2 separate regions of the Homo sapiens genome follow, and region 1 is linked to region 2. The links come from fine-mapping of genetic effects on gene expression. A gene starts in region 2. The other region holds a variant in brackets. All regions are shown on one strand. Distances are between the middles of the regions.

What was found. PIP is the estimated chance that this variant, and not a neighbour inherited with it, causes the effect.
Region 1: its variant is the best candidate, but not a certain one, in a credible set for the expression of MEA1 in lung (GTEx, PIP 0.58).

What each region holds. Positions count from the first base shown.
Region 1 is chr6:43,101,792-43,112,592 of GRCh38, forward strand. All of the region lies in intron 1 of PTK7 (protein tyrosine kinase 7 (inactive)), which reads left to right. Among named protein-coding and RNA genes, the nearest start is that of PTK7, 31 kb to the left of the region's middle. The variant C/T (reference allele first, on the strand shown) is at 4,917.
Region 2 is chr6:43,010,082-43,020,882 of GRCh38, forward strand. MEA1 (male-enhanced antigen 1) reads right to left here and starts at 3,865. Exons shown (of 4, transcript NM_014623.4): 1 at 3,705-3,865; 2 at 3,034-3,308; 3 at 2,845-2,947; 4 at 1,062-2,540. The coding sequence starts at 3,732. The coding sequence ends at 2,389. It overlaps PPP2R5D (protein phosphatase 2 regulatory subunit B'delta), which reads left to right. Exons shown (of 16, transcript NM_006245.4): 13 at 387-488; 14 at 583-655; 15 at 800-916; 16 at 1,068-2,261. The coding sequence ends at 1,205. It overlaps KLHDC3 (kelch domain containing 3), which reads left to right and starts at 4,168. Exons shown (of 11, transcript NM_057161.4): 1 at 4,168-4,267; 2 at 7,053-7,265; 3 at 7,438-7,614; 4 at 7,772-7,887; 5 at 8,064-8,135; 6 at 8,262-8,475; 7 at 8,552-8,638; 8 at 8,782-8,890; 9 at 9,011-9,084; 10 at 9,207-9,285; 11 at 10,586-10,801. The coding sequence starts at 7,112. The coding sequence ends at 10,652. RefSeq lists enhancers at 1,533-2,033, 3,997-4,116 and a silencer at 3,737-3,786.

The DNA of each region.
Region 1 (10,801 bases), 92 kb after region 2:
CTTGAAAATTAAATCTAACACTATGATAAACGGTAATGTGCCATAAACAAGTAAAGGATGTATTCCCAAAAATGCATGGGTGGCTTACCCTTTATAACTCATCAACATAAGACGTCAGAGGTGGCTGGGCGTGGTGGTTCACGCCTGTAATCCCAGCACTTTGGGAGGCCGAGGCGGGCAGATCATCTGAGGTCAGGAGTTTGAGACCAGCCTGGCCAACATGGTGAGACCCCGTTTCTACTAAAAAAAATACAGAGTGCCACTTGACCCTCTGTGTCTTGCAGTTGATTGGTGTGCTTGCCTCCAACTCTGGAGGTGGGTGGTTCCAGCCCGTTCTTGGGAGCATCTCTTGGCCAGGTGAGGTGGCTCATGCCTGTAATCCCAGCACTTTGGGAGGCCGAGGTGGGCGGATCACCTGAGGTCAGGAGTTTGAGACCAGCCCGACCAATACAGTGAAACCCCATCTCTACTAAAAACCCAAAAATTAGCTGGGCATGGTGGCGGGCGCCTGTAGTCCCAGCTACTTGGGAGGCTTAGACAGGAGAATTGCTTGAACCCGGGAGATGGAGGTTGCAGTGAGCCAAGGCCGTGCCACTGCACTCCAGCTTGGGCAACAGAGCAAGACTCTGTCTCAAAGAAAAAAAAAAATTAGCCGGTTGTGTTGGCGGGTCCCTGTAATACCAGCTACTTGGGAGACTGGGGCAGGAGAATTGCTTAAACCCAGGAAGTGGAGGTTGCGGTGCATTGAGATCCTACCACTGCATTCCAGCCTGGGCAACAGAGCAAGACTTTGTTCCCCCTACCCCACCAAAAAAAAACCAAAAAAAAACAAACCAACCGCAAAGGTGTCACACAATTCTCTCAATAGAGGCAAAAATGACACTAGATATAAATTAACATCCATTTCTGATTAAAAAAACAAACATAGCCATCATTATACTTAAAAATGAAATACAATGCTATTTGCATTAAAATGAAGTTACTAAATTAAAATAATAAAGTCACTACTATTTATTATTATTTTAGCTGAAATAATGCTATAAGAAAGAATATAGCCAGGTGGCGTGTACCCATCGTCCCAGCTAGTTGGGAGGCTGAGGTGGGAGGATTGCAGCTTGGACAACTAAGCAAGACCCTGTCACTTACAGGAAAAAAAAAGACTGAAAGTCTAAATAAAGTTCATGTTTTTTGCAGAGGTACCTTTTTTACATGGGAAACCCAATTATCAACTGAAAAACTACTACAATCAGTGAGAGAACTGAGTCATTTGGGCAAATACAAAACCTACACAAAACCCAGAAGGTTTGCTGCTTATCAGCAAGTAACCATTTAGAAAATACAACAGGAACATTTATCCATTCACAGAATCAATAAAAATAAAAACAAAATGCTCAGGCATAAACCATTATAATGGAAACTGTATTGACAGCACCAGTAAATACCCTTCTCCCTTCTGAGTTTAAAACCAGTCGAAGGGGGTGAAAGAGAGGGAGAAAAACAGACAGACCAGGGATTGGATGATGGAGATCAGAGTATCACTTTTATTTGTTTTAAAGGCTAGGTTGAGCAAGCAACAAGGCTTTAATCTGAAGTGGATAAATGTCTTATTCATCCTTGAGTTAGGCAGACTTACTCCCTTGTCATAGCAGTGCTGGAGTATTACAGGTGTGTGTGTGTGTGTGTGTGTAGCCACCTATAAAAAATGTGTGCTCCCTGCAGGTGGAGCAGACCCCCCACTCCCAAGTGAAAGGAGGAAGGATCGGAGTCAAATATGCCCAATCAGACATCCCCCCACCTTGGGGCTGATGGAAGGAGGTGGAGTGAGGCTGGGAGTGATGCTTCAGTTACATCCCCCTTTACCTGGAGTGGGGAGGAGTTGTTCTTCCTTAAAACTTCCTTTGTTCTCTGAACTCACAGCCTTAACCTTTGAAGGCACTGGGTGCCTGGGGGCATGACTCTTCCCTCCAGGGAAGGGGCACAGCTGTCTGGCAACTATTCCTGCTCCACCTTCACTAACCACACTGTTCCTTTGGTGAATCCTTCTAGGACACCTGGAGAACAGAGTAGATTTTCCCTAGAAGGCTCTCAAATGGATCAAAATAGGACAGTATTTAAATTAATTTTGAGGCAAGTCTGCACCCGGGGTGAAAATCTCACTCCCATCTGTTTTCTCAAATCATGTGCAAACACTTTTTCTTCTTCGGTGAAGTAACGATTAGGAACAGGAACCTTCACTGTCTTGTTCACTGCTGTATTCTTAGTACTTAGAGCAGTGCCTGGCACATATAAGTCATTCAGTAATTTAATGACTATTCTGGAGGAGGGAGGGTGAGTGCCACATGTAATACAGAAAATCAGATCTTATATTTCTGATCTTATTAATTACAAAATAATAATAAGGTAACAGTAAGGAAAATAAGGCAACAAAGTTGAACATAAAATGGACAATAAGAAATTTAGGGCAATAAAATATCTCATATTCTCTGTTCCCCAAGTACCAATTTAAATTGAAATCTTGGTTGAGGGTGGGGGAGAAATTTAGCTAACCAGTTAAAAATGAAAAATTGCTTTATTTTCTTAAGAAGAAACAATGCTAATTAAAACAAAGTATTTTTTTAAAATTATTTATTTATTTATGAGATGGATTCTTGCTCTGTCGCCCAGGCTGGAGTACAATGGTGTGAGCTAGGCCCATTGTAACCTCTGCCCCCTGGGAGGGAGTAATTCTCCTGCCTCAGCCTCCTGAGAAGCTGGGATTACAGGCACATGCCACCACGCCTAGCTAATTTTTGTATTTTTAGTAGAGAAAATACAAAATACAACATGGTGAAAACCATGTTGGCCCAGGCTGGTCTTGAACTCCTGACCTGAAGTGATCCGCTCACCTCAGCCTCCCAGAGTGCTGGGATTACAGGTGTCAGCCTCCATGCCCAGCCACAAAGTATTATTTTATGTCTCTCAGGTTGACAAAGATATTAAGCATCAGTGTTGGTTAAGAAAGCGTAAATTAGCACAACTTTTTTTTTTTTTTTTTTTTTTGAGACGGAGTCTCACTCTGTCGCCCAGGCTGGAGTGCAGTGGCGTGATCTCCGCTCACTCCAATCTCCGCCTCCTGGGTTCATGCCATTCTCCTGTCTCAGCCTCTTGAGTAGCTGGGATTACAGGTGCCCGCCACCATGCTCAGCTAATTTTTGTATTTTTAGTAGAGACGGTGTTTCACCGTGTTAGCCAGGATGGTCTCGATCGCCTGACCTTGTGATCCACCCGCCACAGCCTCCCAAAGTGCTGGGATTATAGGCATGAGCCACCAAGCCCAGCCTTTTTTTTTTTTTTAAAAAAACTTCTCTGGAGATAATGCTGGATGTCATTTATCAAAAGCTTGAAATTATATTCTCTTTGTTTCCATTCTCTTTGGAAGTCATCCTACAGAAACCCTCTCATTATCAGTGTGCATAGATGCCTGTACAGAGAATAAGAATATTCTTCATAATGACAAAAAGAAAAAAAAAAAAGGAAAACCATCTGAATGCCCATTATTAGGGTATTGGATAAATAGGTTATGGGTAATTGATACAGTGAAATAATACACAGTGGTTGAAGTGAATGAGGTCGAATTATATGAACAGACATGGAAAGACATCTGTGGTTAACTGTATAGCAAAAAAAAAAAAAAAAAAAAGCAACTTGCAGAATAGCAGATATTAGAGGGTGAATTGTGTCCTCCCAAAATACATGTTGAAGTCCTAAGCCTCAGTACCTGTGAATATGACTTTATTTGGAATTAGGGTCTCTGTAGATATAATCAAGGTAAGATCAATTCATTAAGGTGAATGACGAATCCTGTATGACTGGTGGCGCCCCATGTGAAGAGAAAAGGCCCAGAGACAGAAGTACACCACAGGAAGACGGCTTGTGATAGCGAAGGCTGAGGTTGGAGTGATGTGGCTACAAGCCAAGGAGCACCAGGGATTGCTGACAGCCACCAGGAGCAAGGACAGAGGCGTGGAACAGACTCTCCCTCTGTGCCCTCCAGAAGGATCCAACCTCACCAACACTTTGATTTTGCACTCTGGCCTCCAGAGCTGCGAGAGGATAAATTTCTGTTATTTTAAGCCACCCAGTTGTGGTAATTTGTTATGGCAGCCCTGGGAAACTGATAGAGCAGGTATGGCATTATCCCGTAGCCGTGCCTTCTGTGACTGCGCCTGCCATTCTCTCCATGACAAAGAGCTTCTTCAGTCCATTTCCTACCCTAGCAACCACCTCCTTGGAAACAGGGACTCATTGTGGTTGTGATTTTTTTTTGTTGTTGGGGGACAGCCTGAGCAGGGTGGGTTTGCATTTCACCTCCTTTGCCTCCTTGCCCCAAAGTGGAGTTCTAATGGCCTCTTGGTGGGCTTCCTTCTCCTCATCCTTTTAACCCTGAGCATTCTGAATTACTCAGAGTTCTCTGATCATGCCTGGTCTTTGTGCTTCTGACTTGTTCTATTTGCCAAGTCCCGTTCCTTTTTTTGTTTTTGTTTGTTTGTTTTTTGAGACAGGGTCTTGCTCGATTACCTAGGCTGGAGTGCCCTGGCACAATCACAGCTCACCGCAGCCTTGACCTCCTGGACTCAAGGGATCCTCCTGTTGCAGCCTCCCAGGTGGCTGGGACTACAGGCTTGCACCACCATGCCTAGATAATGGGGTCTTACTGTGTTGCCCAGGCTGGTCTCGAACTCCTGGCCTCAAGTGATCTCTCCACCTCGACCTCCCAGAATGCTCAAAGTGCTGAGATTATAGCAGGCATGAGCCACCACACCCGCCCCTTTCCTTCGTAAAACCTTATGTTGAAGATCCTTCCAAGATTCCTCCCTGCCTTTTTTTTTTTTTTTTTTTTTGAGACAGAGTCTTGCTCTGTCACCCAGGCTGGAGTG[C/T]AGTGGTGTGATCTCGACTCATGGCAACCTCGGCCTCCCAAGTAACTGGGATTACAGGCGTGACACCCGGCTAATTTTTTGTATTTTTAGTACAGACGGGGTTTTACCATGTTGGCCAGGCTTGTCTTGAACTCCTGACCTAAAGTGCTCTCCTCACCTTGGCCTCCCAAAGTGCTGGGATTACAGGTGTGAGCCACCATGCCCAGCCTCTTCCCTGAATTTTTTTTTTTTTTGAGACAGAGTCTTGCTCTGTCACCCAGGCTGGAGTGCAGTGGCGCCATCTCGGCTCACTGCAAGCTCCACCTCCCAGGTTAAAGCGATTCTCCTGCCTCAGCCTCCTGAGTAGCTGGGACTATAGGTGTGCACCACCATGCCTGGCTAATTTTTGTATTTTTAGTAGAGGCGGATTTTCACCTTGTGGGCCAGACTGGTCTCGAACTCCTGACCTCAAGGTGATCTGCCATCCTCGACCTCCCAAAGTGCTGGGATTACAGGTGTGAGCCACCTCGCCTGGACTCCCTGACTTTTTAATCCCCTGACTCTGACTTAGATGCTTCTCTTGTGTGCCCTTTGCACCCACCCATCATCCTGTGTGATAATACAGCAAAGCCTACACGTTATGATAGACTTTCCTCAGGCCAGAAGACCTGAGATTTGAAGCCGGCATCTGTTACTCATCAGCTGTGTGATGTTTAGCAAACTGCTTTACCTTTCTTTGTCTCGTTTCCTTATCTGCATAATGGGGATCATAGTACCTACCCTACCAGATGGGCATTAGCATTATAACAAGTTAATATGGTTAAATGTTTGGAACAGTAAGTGGTCAGTAAGTGGTAGCTGTTACTTTAATTATATGTTTACTTGCCTGACTCTCCTACTAAACTGAGACACTTAAAGACAGTAATTGTGTGTTTCTCTCTCTGTCCCCAGTGTCTTATGAAGTACTTGGCACATGGTAGGCTCTAAGTAAATGATTGTTGAATTAAGAATGATAATTAATATAATTGCCTACCAGGATCCCATATTGGGCTTTGACCCCTGCTGGTTCCACATCATGTTGGGATAATGCGACCAAATTATCTGGCTCAGTAAAACCACCACAAATCGGCCGATATTTCCTGAGCACCTCTCACGGGCGAGGCATCTGCCATGGAGGAGACCAAGTGCGAGATCTGCATCTGTCCTCAGGAAGCTTAGAATCTAGTGGCGAAGACAGAGTTGTAAGCACATGAAATGTTAAATAGCGGTATTAGGGTTTTAACAGTTATTTACGGGAGTAATAGAAGATAAAGAGAATGTGTGTTCACGATTATTATTTCAGTTGGTGGCACATTGTTATCTAACTTCTGTCTTGTTTTCCAAATTTGTTCCAGAAAGCTGCTTTAACTTTTTTTTTTTTTTTTTTTGAGACAGTCTCGCCCTTGTTGCCCAGGCTGGAGTGCAATGGTGCAATCTTGGCTCACTGCAACCTCCGCCTCCCAGGTTCAAGCGATTCTCCTGCCTCAGCCTCCTGAGTAGCTGGGACTACAGGCGCCTGCCACCATGCCTGGCTAATTTTTGTATTTTTAGTAGAGACGGGGTTTCCCCATGCTGTCCAGGCTGGTCACAAACTTCTGACCTCAGGTGATCCTCCTGCCTTGGCTTCCCAAAGTGCTGGGATTATGGGCATGAGCCACCGCGCCCGGCCAACCTTTTTTTTTTTTTCCTTTAAAGACAGGGTCTCAGTTTGTTGCCCAGGCTGGAGTGCAGTGGCACGAGCACAGCTCACTGCAGCCTCCACCTCCTGGGTTCAAATGATCCTCCCATCTCAGCCTCCCAAGTAGCTGGGACTACAGGCGCATACCACCATGCCTGGCTAATTTCTGTAATATTTTTGTAGAGACGGGGTTTTACCGTGTTGCCCAGGCTGGTCTCGAACTCCTGGCCTCAAGCGATCCACCCGCCTCGGCCTCCCAAAGTGCTGGGATTCCAGGCATGAGCCACTGTGCCCAGACTTGTTAAACTTTTCAATAATGAGTTAGATGTAGAGGCTTCATCAAGTTCAGATTTGATTTTGTTTTTTCTTTATGTGTACCTCAGTAGGTACAATATCTGGTTGTCTGTTTGGAATGAGAAGCCATCACTAATCATTGCTAGATCCATTATTTCATTAGGGGGTTGTAAAATCATGGTATTCTGTTTATTAGCTGGAAACTTCTATAAACACCAATCTCCCCTCATTAACTGTTTGGTTACCCACAGATATAGCTGTTCAAGAAAGGGAAAAATAAATGCTTGATTCTTTACTGATTTTCAAAATAATGAGTTGGTTTTCTAACATTCTTCAAAGGTGGCCAGTGAGAGACTTTCAGTGTTTTGTGTTAAGCATCACTGTACACTTACGGATTTTAAACCTATTTGATGTGTTTTAGTCCATGTGGTTCTTACCCTTACGAATGCTTAAGTGGTCCTATCATTGGCTGATGGGAGCCTCTTCAAGCTGAGCCTGAACCTTTTTATTTATCTTATTTTTTTAAAGAGATAGGGTCTTGCTATGTTGTCCAAGCTGAACTTGAACTCCGGGGCTCAAGCAATCCTCCCACCTGAGCCACTCAAGTAGCTGGGACTACAGGAGCATGGCATCATACCCAGCAGGCCTTGAATCTTTTTTTTCCCCTGGACCTTTTGATGAGACCCTGCTAGTCTTTGCTTGTTTCCTTGTATGATAAGATGGAGTTCTAGGCTTCTCTTGTACATTTCCTATCCTGGAACTGGAATCAGCCAATTCTGCAAGGAGAAAGGACATAAATTTTTTAGAACATTAGTACAATATTACCAAACATTTTCCAGAAGGGATTTATTATAATTTATATTCCCTCCAGCAAAGTAGAAGGACTATTTTCTCCATATGCTTACCAGCGTTGAGTGTTATTTTTAAAATCTTGGCCTTCATTTGATGGGTAGAACTCGTTCTAATTTACATTTCTTAGATTACTAGTGCATTGGAGTATTTTCTTTTTTTTTTTTTTTGAGACAGAGTCTTGCTCTGTCACCCAGGCAGGAGTGCAGTGGCGTGATCTCAGCTCACTGCAAACTCTGCCTCCCGGGTTCACACCATTCTCCTGGCTTAGCCTCCCGAGTAGCTGGGACTACAGGTGCCCACGACCACGCCCGGCTAATTTTTTGTATTATTAGTAGAGACGGGGTTTCACCGTGTTAGTCAGGATGATCTCGATTTCCTGACCTCGTGATCCACCTGCCTCGGCCTCCCAAAGTGCTGAGATTACAGGCGTGAGCCACCATGCCCGGCCTTTTTTTTTTTTTTTTTGAGACAGAGTCTCGCTGTATCGCCCAGGCTAGAGTGCAGTGGCGTGATTTTGGCTCACAGCAACCTCCGTCTCCTAGGTTCCAGTGATTCTCCTGCCTCAGTCTCCTGAGTAGCTGGGATTACAGGCGCGCAACACCATGCCCAGCTAATTTTTTGTATGTTTAGAATACAAAATACATGCTGGCCAGGCTGGTCTCGAACTCTTGACCTCGTGATCTGCCTGCCTCAGCTTTCCAAAGTGCTGGGATTACAGGTGTAAGCCACCATGCCTGGCCTGGAGTATTTTCCTATATTTATTAATCATTTATGTTTGTTTTGAGAACTCTTCATATTGTCTTGACCATGTTTCTATTAGAATTTTAGCAGGTTTTTTTTTTGTTGTTGTTGTTGCTGTTTTGTTTTTGTTTTTGTTTTTGAGATGGAATTTTGCTCTTAGTGCCCAGGCTGGAGTACAGTGGCGCAATCTTGGCTCACTGCAACCTCCGCCTCTGGGTTCAAGCGATTCTCTTGCCTCAGCCTCCCAAGTAGCTGGGATTACAGGCATGTGCCACCTTGCCTGGCTAATTTTTTTGTATTTTTATTAGAGACAGGGTTTCACCATGTTAGGCTGGTTTTGAGCTCCTGTCCTCAGGTGATCCACCCGCCTCGGCCTCCCAAAGTGCTGGGATTACAGGTTTGACCCACTGTGCCTGGCCGAATTTTAACAGTTTTTATGAATGATTTGTTACTTTTCATATATCAAGGCCAGCAACCCCTCTTCTGTCATTTACTTAAAGTCATTTGTCTGACTTGTCATTGCTGCTGACGGTCATTTCTACCTTGTATCTTACGTAGTCAGGCATTCTCCTTTAGATAGCATAGACTTTCCAGGCCTCTGTTGGCGGGGCCTCCTAGGATCGGAAAGCTGAAGTCTAATAGTGATCTCTAGGCATTCATTGGTGCATGAACATTACTGTGTTCTCTTCACCTAATAACTGTTTGTGTTCCTTGAGGCCAGAGGCCTGCTTCATACCAAGATGACTGGGTCCATTTTCACCCAGATAGGCTCACTCTGATTTTGGTTCATGCTGAAGGTACTTCTGTTTTGAACAGCTTCTGGGGGAAGTAAATGAAACTATAAGCAACTGCTAATCTGCACCCCTATTAGGAATGCAAGCAGAGCATTGTCTGGAGGTGCCCAAGGTAGACAGAATGCAAAGCTGCCAGCAATCAGTAGCTACCCCTCTGAACTTCACCAGCACAGGGTGGCACCTCTTGAACTGTGGAGTCCCACGTACCTGTATTTAGTGATCAGGTGGAGCATCAGGCAGCTGAGGGACAGAGCTTCAGACCTCAGGGTGTCTGTTCAGAGAGAACCACTACAGCAGAGATTGGATGAGGGAAATCAAGCAGGCACTTAGCATCTCCAAATGGTCTGTGTAGAGGAATGCTGACAAAGGCCAGTGCTGGCTTAGGGATGGTTGTGATGGAGTGCAGGTTCTAAAAAATGAAAAAATCCTGAATATAATGATGACAATAAATAATGGCTAAGAGTCCAAACTCACATAATACTTCCTATGTGCCAGGCACTGTTTCACACTGCTACCTCTGTTACCATGTGAATTTTCTTTTTGCAACAAGCCTATGAGGCCAGTACTGTTACTTGCATCTTTTATTTTATTTATTTTGAGACAGGTCTCACTCTGTCACACAGGCTGGGATGCAGTGGCACGATCATTGCTCACTGCAGCCTCAACCTGATCTCCTGGTCTCAAGTGATCCTCCCACCTCAGTCTCCTGAGTAGCTGGGACCACAGGTGCATACCACCATGCCCAGCTAATTCTTTTTTTTTTTTTTTTTAATATTTAGTAGAGATGAGGTCTTACTGTGTTGCCCAGGCTGGTCTTGAACCCCTGAGCTCAAGCAGTCCTCCCACCTTGGCCTCCCAAAGTGCTGGGATTACAGGCGTGAGCCACTGCACCTGGCCTATTAGCACCATTTTATAGATACAAAAATGAAGGCATGGAAAGGATAAACAGCTTGTCCAAGGTCATACTCTTGGTAAGTGAGGGAGTGTATTTGAATACAGGTAGTCTGACTCCAGTCTCTGAACTTTTAACCTCATCTCCACCCTGCATCTACACTGTATGCCAGCACCTTACAGTTACATGTTTTGTAAACTTTCCAGAGGCATTTCATCCTTGTAGAGGCTCTGCAGGATAGAGAGCAGGTGTTGCTGCTAGCCAGTTTTATTTATTTATTTATTTATTTATTTATTTATTTATTTATTTAGAGACGTAGTCTCCCTCTGTCACCCAGGCTGGGGTGCAGTGGCGTGATCTTGGCTCACTGCAACCTCCGCCTCCCAGGTTCAAGTGATTCTCTTGCCTCAGCATCCCAAGTAGCTGGGACTACTTGGGAGTGTCTCTCTGTCTGTGTCTCTGCGTGTTGATTTCTTACCTCCTCCATCTGTCTGCCAGGGCCCGGGTCTCACATTGTCTATCTGTCTCTCTCTCTCTGTCTTTCAGTCTCCCCTTCTCTGCCTCTCTCAATTTCTTCTGTTCCCTTACCACCACACCTGGCTAATTTTTGTATTTT
Region 2 (10,801 bases):
AGGGTTTTGAAAAGACTTTTCTGCTAAAAGCAAGCACACTGTGGTGTAGATGCAGTCTGTCATGCTGCATCTACATGCCCATCATGCTGCTGGGAGGCCATTAGTGTGGGTTAGAGTGGGAAAGGATGGGAGGTAGGCAGGCCTTGGAGCATGGGGTGAGGGAAGGATGGACAGGTGGACCGATATTTGTGAAAACCATGAAATGCCAGTCTCAAACCAGGTGATTTGGCCAGAGCTCTCTTCTGATACTGCACAGAGGTTTGTGAACTGGAAGTAGTAAATGACAAAGCTCTTAGCAGAGATACCCCTGTGAGAGAACAAATTGGGTTCCTCACGCTAAGGGCAGGCTCTGGCCTCCTACACCTCATCTTTCTTCTTGGTGGCAGGACAATCCATGGACTGATCTATAATGCCCTGAAGTTGTTTATGGAAATGAATCAGAAGCTGTTTGATGACTGCACACAACAATACAAGGCAGAGAAGCAGAAGTGAGTATCTCTCTCCCCGGGAGACTTTCATCTTCTACCACCAGCTCACTGTGTTTCTCTCAAGCCCAACCCCAATCCTACTTTTGCTCCTCAGGGGCCGGTTCCGAATGAAGGAAAGGGAAGAGATGTGGCAAAAAATCGAGGAGCTGGCCCGGCTTAATCCCCAGGTGAGGTTTTCCTGCCACTGTTGTGAACTGAGGGGCCAGCCCATCTTGAGCTGGGGGAGAGTTTGTTGGGGGAGGAATATGGGGCACACAGGCCCCCAAGCCTCTGAAGTGGCTCTTAACGCTTGTCCATGTCTCCTCACTCAGTATCCCATGTTCCGAGCCCCTCCACCACTGCCCCCTGTGTACTCGATGGAGACAGAGACCCCCACAGCTGAGGACATCCAGCTTCTGAAGAGGACTGTGGAGACTGAGGCTGTTCAGGTGGGAGGGCAATGTAGGGGGATGGAGCAGAAATAATAGCTCTGGAAGGGAGAGGAGACAGAAACAGCAGAGCCAAAGAATAAGGGGACGGAACAATAGAATTCACTGGGAATTGGTCACCATTCCTCACCTTGTCCCTATTCACACACAGATGCTAAAAGACATCAAGAAGGAGAAAGTGCTGCTGCGGAGGAAGTCGGAGCTGCCCCAGGACGTGTACACCATCAAGGCACTGGAGGCGCACAAGCGGGCGGAAGAGTTCCTAACTGCCAGCCAGGAGGCTCTCTGACCCCTCACGTTCCTACCACAGGGCCACAGCCCACACAGCCCTGGGACACTGCCCTGGCCCTCCATACTCTGCTCCCTACTGGCTGTCTTGGGGGAAGGCAGCGCCTCTCTAGCTACTCAAGGGAGGGGGATGTGGGCACTTGAAGCAGGGACACCCACAGAATGGTCCCTCTTCTCCCCAAAAGGTGTTCATGCCTCCCTGTGGCTAGTACAGGCTGAGCACTAAGATGCTTAGTGCTCAGACAACCTGGGGATGCCTGTCCCCTACCTGCTCCTCACCCACAGCTACCTGAGGCTGCTCTGAGAAGTACACACAGGAATACATACGCTCCTCTATTCTTCCCTTCATCCTCATTTGAACGCCAGGTATCTCCCCTCCTCTCTCTCCCCTGCAGAGGCATGTAGGGAACAGCAGGAGATTATTCTCACCAAAGTTATGTCAAGCCCCATTGGTCCCAGAGTAGCTGAAGGGAAGCCAACCCCCCTGCAGCACAAATAGGCCCCCCAGTCCCAGCCGTGTGCTGGCAGATAGGGTTGTATTATTTCTTCTTACCCCATGCCTGACCAAGGGAGGTCAAAAGGAGAAAAGTATAGGCTGTGGACAATAACTGATGAATATAGGGCCCAGATGGACCAAGTGGGGCCGGGGAGGGATGAATAAACACCCTACCCCGTGCCCTGTCTTTGGTGAGCAGCAGCCCTGGGGTCACAGACATGGAAGGGACCACCCTGGGGCTGACTGCTTTTCTGTGCTGTTGGTTCCCAAAACTAGAAAGAAGGAAGCAGGGAGCGGTGCCCCAAGCATGGCTCCTGCCAACACCTATTTATTTCCTTGTTTGTGCTATGCTGGGCAGGCCTTCTCTTGTCCCTTATAGGTACCTTGGAGGGGCCAGGGGCTGAGGAAGGCCGGACCCAGGTTCCAGGGGCGCAGGCAGTGCGGCTTTTGGCTGTGTACATAGGGTGCTTTATTCTCCACAGAGTGATACATGCTAAGGTGGGTTGGGCTTGGACCGATGTCCCCATATGTACAGAACTGAATAAAGTGGGTCTCTGAGAAGTCTGATGTGCCTTGATGTGGAAAGGGAGACGGGGAAGATGGAAATGGACATTACAACCAGGGATGTGTTCAGTCCTGTGCTGGTTCTGGCCTGGAATGTAGGAATATAAGGCAGCTCTCACTGTGGTCACTTCCAGGCAGGGGATGCCTGCCGGGCTTGGAGGGCTTTCTGTACCACATCTTCCCACTGGGCATCCGATATCTCCCGAGCCCAGGCAGGAACCCCTGGCGCAGGCAGGCTTACTCCAGCCATTGTCCTTTTCACCAGCTCTACATGTTCTGAAATCAGAGCCAGAGGCCATTCAGGCATAGAAATAATGGGACCAGCTCCCCTCCCCAATCCCCGAATCAACCCAGAGCCCTTGGGCTGCTAGGGTCACCAAATCCACCTTGTTACTTTAAGGCAAGCCTGCCCATCCCCAAAGCTAGCAAAAGAGCATTTCACTTGGACTCTGAAGTCTACAAAATCTTAGTTTACAAACTATCTTTTTAGGATAGGGTCTTCCTCTGAAACTTCCTTCTACTGACTCATGCCAGTTCATTTCCTTAGTAATTATTCCAGAATGAAAGAATGATCTTTTACCTGGGTCCATGGGAATAGAGCTGTGGTTGTTCAACGCTGTAGCTCCCTCCTCATCTTCATCTTCACTCTCTAATGGTGGGTCTGGCAAATGAAGCCCCAGGGCCTGCAGAGCCACAGAAGACCGTTTGGGTCTAGGCTTTCAGGGAGCCCAGCTTCACCTGTTCAGGAACCATCCCTCCTCCACCCTACCTGGATTCGATCCTGGATGTCAGCAACTACATCTCCATCCCCCACTGGTGCCAGTTCCACCTCCTCTTGTTCAGGATCTTGGTTCAGGGGCTGGTAGGAGTAGCCAGCTGGGCCCGACCCCGTTTCCTCCTGCTCTTCCTCAGGCTCCTCACTGCTCCAATCCCCAGTGCCTTCTGAAGGGCCCTGATGTCCCAGTTCCTCAGTCTGATTGGGGAAGATACGCTCAGGGCCCATGGTGTCTCCTCCTAGAACTACTGTTGCCATCCGGGCAGGGGCTGCAAGAACAGGGAGGCGGTAGGACAGGGATCGGATGAAACCAGGCCCATCTTCATCCTCTCATCATCTCCTTGTAGTCTCCTGCGTGCAAAAAACCAGCTCCTCCCCGAGGCTCCTGCATCCTCCACCCCTCCGCCCCAATTCCAGCCTCTCGTTCCTCCCCCTCCTAAGTCGGGGTTCTTATCTTGAACCAGGCCCCACCAACTTGCTCCGCCACTTCCTAGTTAAACGCCCAACCGGAGGCCCTGCCACCTCCTAAAAGACACCCCTTCCAGAACCCCGGCTCCCCGCGCCACGCCTCCCCCGCGACTTGGGAACTCTGGGTCATCAGACTCCCCTAAACAGGTCGGCGTACCCGCCCCCTTCTCCCCTCTCCTAGAGGACCCCCTCTGTACCGCCTGACAGATGCCTTTCAGGCCCCATGGGCTCCCCTCAAATGGCCCCAGCTGCAGCGTCCCCCACCCGCCCCCATCCGAATCCCGGCGCCGGTGTTCCCGCGCGCCTCACCCGCTCAGAGCCCGCGGCCTCCACTTCCGGCGGGGCAGGACGTGCAGAGGTGCCTAGTCCTCCAGCCCCGCCCCATATCCATGATTGACGCTGGCGAGGACGAGGAGTCCGCCCCTTGCCCCGCCTCCGTCATTCCCAGCCCAAAAAACAAAGGACTGCATTACCCAGTGGCCTCCTCGGTCTCGACACATATTTGCACATGCGCAGAATCTCTCCTACGCCCCTGCCCACTCCTCAGCCCTCTCGTCCCTCAGGAAACGTATGGACTACAAGTCCCGAAATGCCTCCGGCACTTAGCTACGACTGCACGTGCGCGCACAGCTGCCCGCCGGAAGAACCGAGCTTGGCTGTGTTTATCTCGTTGGGGACTAAGGCGTCGGTTGGCGCGCAACGGGTTCTAGGCTGCAGGCAGCTCGAGGACCCGCGGCCCCGCCCCGGCTCGGCCTGGCAGGTAGCCTGGGATGGGTAGAAGGGCAAGGGAGAATTAGGGGGCTTAGGACGTGCTGTCTGGAGCTGGAGTGGCGGGGGAGGGGCCTGAGAGTGATGAGGTGGGGGTGGGGAGGGAGCTAGGGGGATGATGGGAAAGGAGAGTGTTAATGGGGAAAGCAGGGCTAGGGGAGGATGGCGAGGAGATGGGTAGGAGAGACCTGGTGTCTGGAGGAAGCAATGAAGGAAATGGGAAGGAAGACTGGGCCATGAAAACAGGGAAGCTGAGCATAATGGAAGGGGAGGGGTGTCTGGCGTGGTGGGCTAGGGGAGGCCGGAATGTCTGGAAGAAGACAGGGATAGAGTCATATGCAGAGAGGGGTATCGTGGTCAGTGCATGCTAATTTTTCTTTCCTTAGTGGAGGTGGGAAAATGGAGGGCTGTTGGGTGGAGCTTGGAATGGTAGGAGAAGGAAAAATGAGAAAACTGCAAAGCTCTCACGAGATCAAGAAGGGCGAGAAATGGGGAATAAAAAATGCAAGAGACCAGGCGGGTAGATACATTAAGGGAATAGAAGAAGTTTGAAAATGCTTGGTGGTGATGGAGGACTGGGGAGACCCAGGGATAAGAGGAGCCCCTGAGCGCCTGGGGGCTTGTTCTCCTTGAATTTGAGTTGTTTATATGGCAGAGAAACTAAAATTTTTTTTCTCCACCTTTGGCTGGAATTGCTTATCTCCTCTCCTGTGCATATTTTACTTTACCTTGACATATCTGAAGGGAAGAATAGAGAATATAAGGGAGGATGGAAGACTTCCATTCTTAAGCCCATCGACCTCCTAACAGTCTCCACAAGCCCAGACCCAAGATATTTTGGAGAGCGGGAGTAATGAAGTGAGAGTAGCTTCCTGCTGGGGCTATTTCAGGATGGGTCCCATGGCTATTTAAAGCTTAGGGTGTGGAGTTGGGGGAGGTTGGGTGGGTGGGACTAGCAAGCCAGCTGAAAGCCATGTCTCTTTCCTGCAAGGGGCCTCCCTTATTTGAGCTGTTTTAGTGCCTGAGGTTTTGCCTGGCCCTTTCCTCTGCCAGGGCTTCTTAAACAGGGAGCAGATGATGATACACCCAAACTCAGGAGATGCTTGCCAGCAAAAGCATTGTCAGTTGCAAGGATTTGCCTGAAAAAACCTCAGATGTACCCAGGTGTACGTGCCACTAGGTTGACAGGTTGTGTTTAAGAGACCATGACCAGCTGGGCATGGTGGCTCACGCCTGTAATCCCAGCACTTCAGGAGACCGAGGACGGTGGATCACCTGAGGTCAGGAGTTTGAGACCAGCCTGGCCAACATAGTGAGACCCCATCTCTACTAAAAATACAAAAATTAGCTGGGCATGGTGGCAGGCGCCTGTAATCCCAGCTACTTGGGAGGCTGAGGCAGGAGAATCGCTTGAACCCGGGAGGGAGGCAGAGTTTGCAGTGAGCTGAGATTGCACCATTGCGCTCCAGCCTGGGGGCAAGAGCGAGACTTCATCTAAAAAAAAAAAAAAAAAAAAAGACCATGACTTCTCATGCTGGATCTTTCTCTTGTCCTGCCCAAGGGCATTTTTTGCCTCCCTTCCCCTTTTTTTTTGTTTTGAGACAGAGTCTCGCTCTGTCGCCAGACTGGAGTGCAGTGGTGTGATCTCGGCTCACTCCAACCTCCGCCACCCGAGTGCAAGCAATTCTCCTGCCTCAGCCTCCTGAGTAGCTGGGACTACAGGTGCGCGCCACCGTGCCCAGCTAATTTTTGTATTTTTAGTAGAGACGGGTTTCACCATGTTGGCCAGGATGGTCTCCGTCTCTTGATCTCGTGATCCACCTGCCTCGGCCTCTCAGGGTGCTGGGATTACAGGTGTGAGCCACTGTGCCCAGCCCCTTCCCCTTTGCATTGCACACTCCCACCTCTATCCGCCTTTCAGGAACCCAAGTTGTGGAAGAGCTTGTTCTCTCTTTTCTACTGGAAATGGCTTGTTCTCTACCACAGTAGCAGGGATGGGGAAGTGGCAGGAGGAGAAAACCCCTCCCTCTATCACCATCCCCCAAGCCTAAGCATACACATACCTTTCTGGCTTAAGTCCTGGCAGCATACCAGGCACAGCTGTCAAAGGAACTCCTTGTGCCTGTGGGGGGCCCTGGGTGACCCCAATGACAACAACTCAGCTTGACAGGAGCTCCCTGTGAGGGGCTAACCAACCGCGGTAACATGGAGGTCCCTGTCCTGGATCAGTCCCGCCCTATCTTGGGTAGGGGGATTGTTCCACTCTAAAAGCCTGAAAGCTTTTCTGCTTTGAGGCACTCATGCCAGCTTTCAATGGACTGTTTGAGGCTGGCTGGGCTATTAATAGCTGTGAGTATTTTGAGATCCCTTTCCCCACCTCAAAGAACACAGATTCTTAGAGAGGTGGCAGTAAGCAGAGCAGAGACAAGAGAATATACCGTTTGGGAAGGGGGCTTCAAGTTTGTGCCAAGCCAGGGACAGAGTGGAGCCTCCACGAGTAGGTTGTGACCATGATATGCAGATTCTGAGCTGGCAATCAGGTGGGGGTGGCCCCACCCTTCACTGTTGGAGAACACTGGGCCCAGGCTGCTCCCTGACCTCGGCAGCTCCCTTGGGGCAGGGCCAGCCACCTGAGCTGAGACTAGTGCCCCTGTGGAGGGGTAGTGTGGGAGGGCCCCCAGGGTGACACTTGGAGGCAAAGGCTGGTTCTGGGCAGAGTCACAGTGAGCTGGGCAGAAGCCTCGCCTGAGGATCCCGTGGCCCCAATTTGTGTGCAGATAGCAGAGGCAGCAGGCCGTGCCGGGGGGGCATGTTGCTGTAACCAGTGGCCCAGGGGATGTTACGGTGGACAGTGCACCTGGAGGGCGGGCCCCGCAGGGTGAACCATGCTGCAGTGGCTGTCGGGCATCGGGTATACTCCTTCGGGGGTTACTGCTCTGGTGAAGACTATGAGACACTGCGTCAGATAGATGTGCACATTTTCAATGCAGGTAAGCCAATGCTGGGGCTGTCCCTGGGTCCCCACATCAGGGTGGGAACGGGCTGCTGATGAGGTTTGGCTGTGGTCTCTGGGACCAAGGGGATTGGGGACAAACATCTGGTTTGGGAAAAGTGGACAGCCTGGAGGGAGGTTCCCAGGGCTGAGCAGAGCTGTGCCCACAGTGTCCTTGCGTTGGACAAAGCTGCCCCCGGTGAAGTCTGCCATCCGTGGGCAAGCTCCTGTGGTACCCTACATGCGCTATGGACACTCAACCGTCCTCATCGACGACACAGTCCTCCTTTGGGGCGGGCGGAATGACACCGAAGGGGCCTGCAATGTGCTCTATGCCTTTGACGTCAGTGAGTATGGATCTCAGAGAGGCTATGTCCTTCCAGATGTTGCCTCAGTTGCCCAAGAAAGGTTTGGGTTGGGGGTCTTGGGGAGTAGAGTACCCCAGAGCTGAGGAGGGACTGTCATAGAGGGTGCTTAGTTGAGCCATTTTCTCATCTCCTTCAGATACGCACAAGTGGTTCACACCCCGAGTGTCAGGGACAGTTCCTGGGGCCCGGGATGGACATTCAGCCTGTGTCCTAGGCAAGATCATGTACATTTTTGGGGGCTACGAGCAGCAGGTAGGTCTGGGAATAAAATAAGAGGTTTAGGGTGGGACTGAGAAAGAGGGGAAGGGCAATTTAGGATGGTGAAATGGGAGGCTTTGGCTTGTTTGCAGGTTTTGAGGGGAGGGATGGAGGGTCAGAGAGTGACCATTGGCTCCCTCTTTTCTTCCTCCTTTTCTCTTCCTACTCAGGCGGACTGTTTTTCCAATGACATTCACAAGCTAGATACCAGCACCATGACATGGACTCTTATCTGTACAAAGGTCTGCTCTTTCTTTTTTTTCCCAAATCCCCACCCTCTGTTGAAGCAATGATAGGAAGCTCAGTCAGAGGAGATCCTCTTCCAGTCTTTGTGCTGACCCCTCCACCATCTCTCTGCCTCTGCCCAGGGCAGCCCTGCACGCTGGAGGGACTTCCACTCAGCCACAATGCTGGGAAGTCACATGTATGTCTTTGGGGGCCGTGCCGACCGCTTTGGGCCATTCCATTCCAACAATGAGATTTACTGCAACCGCATTCGAGTCTTTGACACCAGAACTGAGGCTTGGCTGGACTGTCCCCCGACTCCAGTGCTGCCTGAGGGGCGCCGGAGCCACTCGGCCTGTGAGTGTTTGTTACTTCCCTGTGGAGTTCCCTTCCTGCCCTCTTCACACTCCTGACACTTCCTCTCTCCTTCCAGTTGGCTACAATGGGGAGCTGTACATCTTTGGTGGTTATAATGCAAGGCTGAACCGGCACTTCCATGACCTCTGGAAGTTTAATCCTGGTAAAGAGCACTGCATTTAGGGCAGGAACAAGGAGCAATTGAGGTGGGAGGAAAAGAAAATAATCCTGAGGCGGTGAGGGATGGGGGTGGGGAAGATACCTGGACTAGGCAGGTATTGAACTTCCATATAAATTTCTCTTCAGTGTCCTTTACCTGGAAAAAGATTGAACCGAAGGGGAAGGGGCCATGTCCCCGCCGGCGCCAGTGCTGCTGTATTGTTGGTGACAAGATTGTCCTCTTTGGGGGTACCAGGTTAGAAGGAGAGAGGGAAGGGGCTCAGGGAAGTCACTAATGGGAGAGTGGGAGGTATTTGAAAAGGGGGTTTCGTGGGTAGTTTTTGTCCTACTTTCATCTCTCTTTTGATCCCGACAGTCCATCTCCTGAGGAAGGCCTGGGAGATGAATTTGACCTTATAGATCATTCTGACTTACACATTTTGGACTTTAGTAAGTATAGTTATTCCTGAATTGCTCCTGCCATCAAGGTCCCTGTCTTTGGGTGGTGATATCCAGGACTGGATCCTTTCCTCACCTTTGACCATCTCCTTTCCACAACTTCTCCCTTAAAGGCCCTAGTCTGAAGACTCTGTGCAAACTGGCCGTGATTCAGTATAACCTAGACCAGTCCTGTTTGCCTCATGATATCAGGTACAGCGAGTGGTTGGAAGGGAGGGATTGAGTGAGGGTGAGTGAGCAGCACAGGTGTGACCTGATTAGCTTGGTTTCAGTATGGAGGAGACAGACATTTTTGTTCTGCTGGAGATGTAGTGTACTTGTGGGAAATGAGATGGAAGGAGGTGAATTGACAGCCATCATATAAAACTGTCAGCAGAATAAATTATATGAAAAAAAAATACAGCTCGGCAGCATCACTTTCTGAGACCTAAGCTTATACAGTTATTTTTGTGACCATGCTGAGAACAACTGATTAAATCTTAGAACCTAGCTGCAAAGTAAAGACAAGTTTAGGAGCCTCTGGATCACATTGGTTCCAGAAGATCTGGCTGCTTCCCTTTGAATTTCGTTCTTAGGTTCCAATTAACCACCAGATGTTACTTTATGTATAATTTTTCAGGTTCAAATTAACCACCAGATGTTACTTTGTATATAATTTTTCCTGTCTGGGTCATTCTGAGATACTTCGTCTCTTTGTATCAGTTCAGTTTAACTCTTGCTGGCTGGGCATGGTGGCTCATACCTGTAATCCCATCACTTCGGGAGGTTGAGGTGGGCAAATCAGTTGAGGTCAGGAGTTCGAGACCATCCTGGCCACATGGTGAAGCCCTGTCTATACTAAAAATACAAAAATTAGCTGGGCATAGTGGCAGCCACCAGTAGTCCCAGCTACTTGGGAGGTTGAGGCAAGAGAATTGCTTGAACCCGGGAGGCGGGGGTTTCAGTGAGTCAAGATTGTGCCACTGCACCACTGTACTCCAGCCTAGGTGACAGAACAAGACTCAAAAAAAAAATTAATATGGTTGGGTGGGTGGGGAAGGCCTCAGGAAGGATAGGAGTGCTGAGTCAGAGCCTTAAAAGGATGGGAGTTAAGAGCAAAAATGGGTATTCCTGGTGGGGTGAGGCATTCCTGGTGAGGGTAAGGTGGAGGGGCTGCCTGGTTGGCTCTAAGCAAAGCAGGAAAGGCAGGTTGGGATGTTGACTGACATGTATACACAGATCTCAGGTGCCTGGACACTGCAATATACATACATACATAAACATAAACCGGAAATCCATATGAGCTTGGAGGTAGAGGAGTGGGTGGTGTTGGATTTGGTGGTGGGTGGGTTCTGATTGTTCAACCTAGTAGGTCTCTTAAGTAAGAGGTGGCTGTGGGTGGTTGACCTTTAGGAAGTTGGAGAGACTGGTGTGTTTTTAGCTTGGTTCAAACATCCCTTAGCTTGGGCTGAGGGCCCCCTCTTCTTTCTGTCTCTTATTGTTGGCCTTCCAGGTGGGAGCTGAATGCCATGACCACCAACAGCAATATCAGTCGCCCCATCGTCTCCTCCCATGGGTAGGAGGAAGTTTCTGCCACCTCCCCTCCTGAGCCTGCTGTCATCTTCACTGCCCCTGCCCATCTGTCACCCACCTGCTCCTTTGACCCCTGGACTTGGTATACCTCCATGTGGAGTTGTTGGGCGAGAGGTGTTCTCTGTGCTGTGAATTC